Linked DNA regions of Homo sapiens: region 1 is linked to region 2. The links come from fine-mapping of genetic effects on plasma protein levels. A gene starts in region 2. The other region holds a variant in brackets. All regions are shown on one strand. Distances are from middle to middle. Region 1 overlaps SELP (selectin P). Region 2 holds the start of SELE (selectin E).

What was found. PIP is the posterior inclusion probability: the model's chance that the variant is causal. Protein levels are from antibody-based Olink assays in UK Biobank. Linkage for the fine-mapping came from a reference panel and not from the study's own genotypes, which makes the PIPs less certain.
Region 1: its variant is fine-mapped to the plasma level of the SELE protein (UK Biobank, PIP above 0.99).

The regions. Positions count from the first base shown.
Region 1 is chr1:169,608,960-169,611,878 of GRCh38, reverse strand. SELP (selectin P) reads left to right here. Exons shown (of 17, transcript NM_003005.4): 7 at 202-387; 8 at 2,190-2,375. Among named protein-coding and RNA genes, the nearest start is that of SELP, 20 kb to the left of the region's middle. The variant G/A (reference allele first, on the strand shown) is at 1,472.
Region 2 is chr1:169,733,834-169,736,690 of GRCh38, reverse strand. It overlaps SELE (selectin E), which reads left to right and starts at 2,612. Exons shown (of 14, transcript NM_000450.2): 1 at 2,612-2,720.

The sequences.
Region 1 (2,919 bases), 120 kb after region 2:
CTTGGAGGAATCTTTGTTTTTAACAGACTCAGATCACCCTGGGAACTGGTAATCCAAGTCTGGACAAACATCATTAGGGTCTCTTGACCTTTACATCTTGCTAGCTCCACCTGCATTTCAGAGGTGGTTCCACCATTGCTCTCTGTGTGGCTTTTCTCCTTTCTCAGTATCTTTCTCTTTATCCTTGGTTATTCTCTCCAGCTGTGCAGTGTCAGCACCTGGAAGCCCCCAGTGAAGGAACCATGGACTGTGTTCATCCGCTCACTGCTTTTGCCTATGGCTCCAGCTGTAAATTTGAGTGCCAGCCCGGCTACAGAGTGAGGGGCTTGGACATGCTCCGCTGCATTGACTCTGGACACTGGTCTGCACCCTTGCCAACCTGTGAGGGTAGGATTTTTCATTAGCAACCTCCATTCTGTCCAAGAAGGAATCATGGCATGGTAGAGAGGCCAAGGGCTCTCAGTGTCGGGGTGATCTCTTCTAAGTTCTTGCACTAGAGCAAGCTCTTCAACCTCCAGGAACCATGGTTTTCTCATCTGTGAAATGGAGCTAAGAATTGCAAGGTGCTTGTGAGGATTAAGTACATAAAAAGTATACAATTAAATAGCATGTATAAAGTACCTAGCATAGAGCTTCTGCTCTACTGACATATCCGAGGTATAGGACCATGTCCTATACTTGAGAGGGAGTTGGGAGCAGCGGCTAAGGTGGCTAAAGAGAGTGGTTCACCATGTAGTCTTTGAGGGTAGCCTTTGACAAAGAAGCAAAGGAAGGAACACTGCATCGAAAAAGTGTGTGATGCAATCCCAGGCAATTACATAATTCCGCCAAAATGAATTCTCTGCAATTGCCTCACACCCTCAGTTTATAAGGCGGACAGTGGTAATGGGAGAATAGGAAATTTACGATAGATTAGTGAATTCCCAGACCTGGATGACAAGCCCAACCCTGCTACTATCTAGCTATGAGACTTTAGAGAAGTCACTTAACACTTCTGAACCTCACTTTTCTTGCCTAAAACATAAGAGAGAAGAGAGAAACACTAGAGGATTTTGGTGTTTTTGTTTGTTTGTTTGTTTGTTTGTTTGTTTGTTTGTTTTGAGACAGAGTCTCACTCTGTCGCCCAGGCTGAAGTGCAGTGGCACGATCTCAGCTCACTGCAACCTCTGCCTCCCAGGTTCAAACGATTCTCCTGCCTCAGCCTCCCGAATAGCTAGGATTACAGGCAACTTTTTGTATTTTTAATAGAGACTAGGGTTTCACCACTTTGGCCAGGCTGGTCTCAAACTCCCGACCTCAAGTGATTCACTCACATCAGCCTCTCAAAGTGCTGGGATTATAGGTGTGAGCCATTGTGCTCAGCCGGATTTTTGGTTCTTAAATGCTCTGAGTCTGTAAAAACCAGAGGTCAAAGCCCAGAGCAAAGAGGTAGTCTTTACACTTTGAAAAGTTTCAGAAATAGCCTGGAAAT[G/A]AAATGCTTTATCAAGGAAGAGCATGAGGAAACCAATCTTTATCAGAACTGAGGTCACTCAGGGCTTAATTGTGCTCAGGAATTCACTTTGGCTGCACTCACTTGGCAACTGAAGTCTGATTAGGATGACATCCTGTGTTCTAGAGACAAAGCCCGGTCAGGATCATTTTACAGGACTAGGTAACAGTGTCAACAATAAGCTATGCTAGTCCAGCTTTTTTTTTTTTCCCTATAAGTCCAGCATTTTCCTGTATATACTCTTTTCAGGTTCAATTTCACAGATAATGTCAATATTTAATGAGCACTTTCAATGTACAAAACACTCTGCTCAGCTCCAGAATAAAACTATGAATGACTGAGCCCAACTTCGAGGAGACCACGGTATAATGGGGAAGAATGACAATCATGTATGAACAGCGCAAGAACAGAGGCTGTGGGAGCACATTGCAGGGGCTTCTACCCTTAGTTAAGGTGGGAAGGGAGGGCTTCCTAAGGAAAGGGAAGTCTAAGCTGAGACCTGAAGGGCAGGTGAGAGTGAGTCAGGCCAAGAGGGGCATGGGAAGGTGTTCCAGGCAGTCTCTCTTTTGGAAAATGGAGGTTTTAGGGTTCTGAACACACTGAAAATGTGGACAGGAAAGATATAGCATCTAGGAATTTTTTCTGAGGAAGAACCCGGCCCTTCCATTACCTGGCTTTAGAAGATACCTTTTCCACTTAGCTATTTCGTGTGAGCCGCTGGAGAGTCCTGTCCACGGAAGCATGGATTGCTCTCCATCCTTGAGAGCGTTTCAGTATGACACCAACTGTAGCTTCCGCTGTGCTGAAGGTTTCATGCTGAGAGGAGCCGATATAGTTCGGTGTGATAACTTGGGACAGTGGACAGCACCAGCCCCAGTCTGTCAAGGTACTGTAACAGTGGTAATGTTTTTCTGTGTGTCTCAGCTCGTTAGAGGCATCAGCATCTGCACTGAGCATTGGCATGCCTTTCTTTATCAGATATTCACTGAGAACCTACTATGGGCCATGTCCTTTGTGCTTGGGACCAGGGATGAGATGAAACGGTGCGTGAAGCCAGTCTTAGGCACATGTCCACTATAGTATAGTCAAGGTGAGGTTTGCACTGATTGACACATATAGGGTGCATTGGAATGAAGAAGATGGGGCTTGGGGGAATAAATCATGCATGAGGAATAGCATGGGATGGGGAAGGGTAATGGACAAGGTGTTTAGCTCAGTCCTGTCACTTCCTGTCCTTAAGCTAGTGGTTTAGACTCTCTGAGGCTCAGTATCTTCTGTAAAATGGGGCTACTATTATCAGCCTTACCTACCTGCCTCACTAGTAGTTGTGAATTAATGTGTGTAAACGCAACTTTAAAACTCTTATAGGATTTATAGGGAAAATGATGATGATGACATGTTACCTTATAAATCACATGTCTGTGGTCTGA
Region 2 (2,857 bases):
CCTATTTCATAGGCTGTTGTACGGATTGAATAATCAATAGGTGAACATACAAAATGCTCAGAATATGGCCTGGCACATAGTAAGCACTCAATAAATGTTAGAGATTATAATTGGGGGTCCAGGACATATATATGTAAGTAAAATAGAAACTTCATCACCACTGGGGCTATTTTTAGATATCTTTGAACTAATTTTAAAAAGGGGAAGAGATAAACTATAAACTTAGTTATGAAAAATTCGCAATAATAAAGTTAGTTATCTAGGGATGTTAACGACTAATTTCTATTAGCAATATAATTATTAGGTACTTTATTGATATCGAAGATAAATTGTTTTTTAAGATTTGGCTACTCTATACATTTGACCATGCTTTTTAAAAATAGCAGATTATGTATTCATACTTTATTAAAAATAAAATACATACAGATAATGTATTAACCCAACTTGACATTCTGCCCTAAAATCTAAATAAACACTATATGAGTGATTACTCTTCTGAATTTATTGAAGCAACAACCACATTGAGCTAAGTAAAGTGGGATAAAGAATTGGAATAATGTCAGTATCTGGATCATGTAAGAGAGTGGTAAGGTGGAGGGAATAAATTCTATGCTTTTTGATAGGGGTTGAATTAAATTCGTTAATTAAGTTATTTTTTTCTAATCAGTTGTCTTTTTTGGAATTTTTCTTCTCTTTTCTTGTTTTTTTTTTGGGTCTTGACATCTTTATGAACACAGAAAGACCAGTGCTAACAAGTAAAGAGAAAAACGAGGCTTTTACCACTACTCGTTCAGGTCTGCTGACAGTACATTTTTAGATAGACCTCCTATTTTGAAAGGCTGTAGATATAGAATATTAGCTTGACTTGAGCTCTGAAAACCTACAGAATATGGAAATTAAAATGATCCCCATTTACTGTTACCATCATTTAGATAGGGTAAGATGCAGAGATGGGGAATGTATACAATCACCCAGAAGAAATGTCAAAATGAAGAGCAGGAATATAGGATACCACATACATCTCCTTCTGTTGCATTTGGAAACAAATTTCTTTTCTTTTCTTTTTCTTTTTTTCTTTTTTTTTGAGATGGAGTCTTGCTCTGTCGCCCAGGCTGGAGTGCAATGGTGTGATTTCAGCTCACTGCAACCTCTGCCTCCTGGGTTCAAGCGATTCTCTTGCATCAGGCTCCCCAGTAGCTGGGATTACAGGCATGCGCCACTACACCCCGGCTAATTTTTGTATTTTTAGTAGAGACAGGGTTTCACCATATTGGCCACGCTGGTCTGGAACTCCTGACCTCAGGTGATCCACCCACCTCAGCCTCCCAAAGTGCTGGGATTACAGGCATGAGCCATCATGCCTGGCCTAGAGACAAGTTTCTTTAAACTGTATTCTTGTTACTATAAAGGTGAAAAAAAGGGAAATTGAAAAAAACTTTAAAATCCTGAAAATAATAATGAAGGATATAAAAATTATCCCAAATCCTGCCATCCAGAGTTAGTCACTGTTAACATTGTGGAAGAATTTTTATTCTTTGCACATTAACATTTCAAAAATTTTAAACAAAATTTTGACCAATTAAATATATATATATAGTTTTCCGTTTTATTTTTTTTCTTTTCTTTTCTTTTTTTTTTTTTTTTTTTAAGACAGAGTTTCACTCGTTTCCCAGGCTGGAGTGCACTGGCGTGATCTTGGCTCACTGCAACCTCCACTTCCCGGGTTCAAGCGATTCTCCTGCCTCAGCCTCCCGAGTAGCTGGGATTACAGGCATGCGCCACCATGCCCAGCTAATTTTGTATTTTTAGTAGAGATGGCGTTTCTCCATGTTGGTCAGGCTGGTCTTGAACTCCCGGCCTCAGGTGATCCGCCTGCCTCGGCCTCCCAAAGTGGTGGGATTACAGGCGTGAGCCACTGTGCCTGGCCTCCTTTTTATTTTTTTCACTGAACAAACCATGAAACTTTCCCAGATGTAAATATCTATTTCCCATTTTTCTTTTTTTAAAATAAGGCATTATTTTAACCATTTGAGTGTTAGATATTATTTTTAGATAATATTTTAATTTAGGCATAACTGCCGTGCAAAATCTGAAGATTAATATCTACCTTGTGAGTCATTCCTCTGTGAGACAGTGCATGTTAAATATGTTGAATTGGCAGGTGAAAAAGGAAGAAAAAATGAGTAGTGATTGGTTATCCACAGCTATGAATGAGAAATTGAAGGTAGTAGACTATGGATGACAAACCTATTCTTGGTTTCCTTCTGTTTCTGAAATTCTAATTACTACCACAACTACATGAGAGACACTACTAACAAGCAAAGTTTTACAACTTTTTAAAGACATAGACTTTATGTTATTATAATTAAAAATCATGCATTTTTGTCATATTAATAAAATTGCATATACGATATAAAGGCATGGACAAAGGTGAAGTAGCTTCAAGAGACAGAGTTTCTGACATCATTGTAATTTTAAGCATCGTGGATATTCCCGGGAAAGTTTTTGGATGCCATTGGGGATTTCCTCTTTACTGGATGTGGACAATATCCTCCTATTATTCACAGGAAGCAATCCCTCCTATAAAAGGGCCTCAGCCGAAGTAGTGTTCAGCTGTTCTTGGCTGACTTCACATCAAAACTCCTATACTGACCTGAGACAGAGGCAGCAGTGATACCCACCTGAGAGATCCTGTGTTTGAACAACTGCTTCCCAAAACGGTAAGTGCAGAACGCTTTATAAGGGCAGCCTCGGGCCATGAAACACAGATATGCAAAAGGCCTTCTAATAAAAACCACATCTGTACAAGCTCTTATTGTATTGTAGCTAAAACCTGTCTTTTCTCTTTGACCTAAAT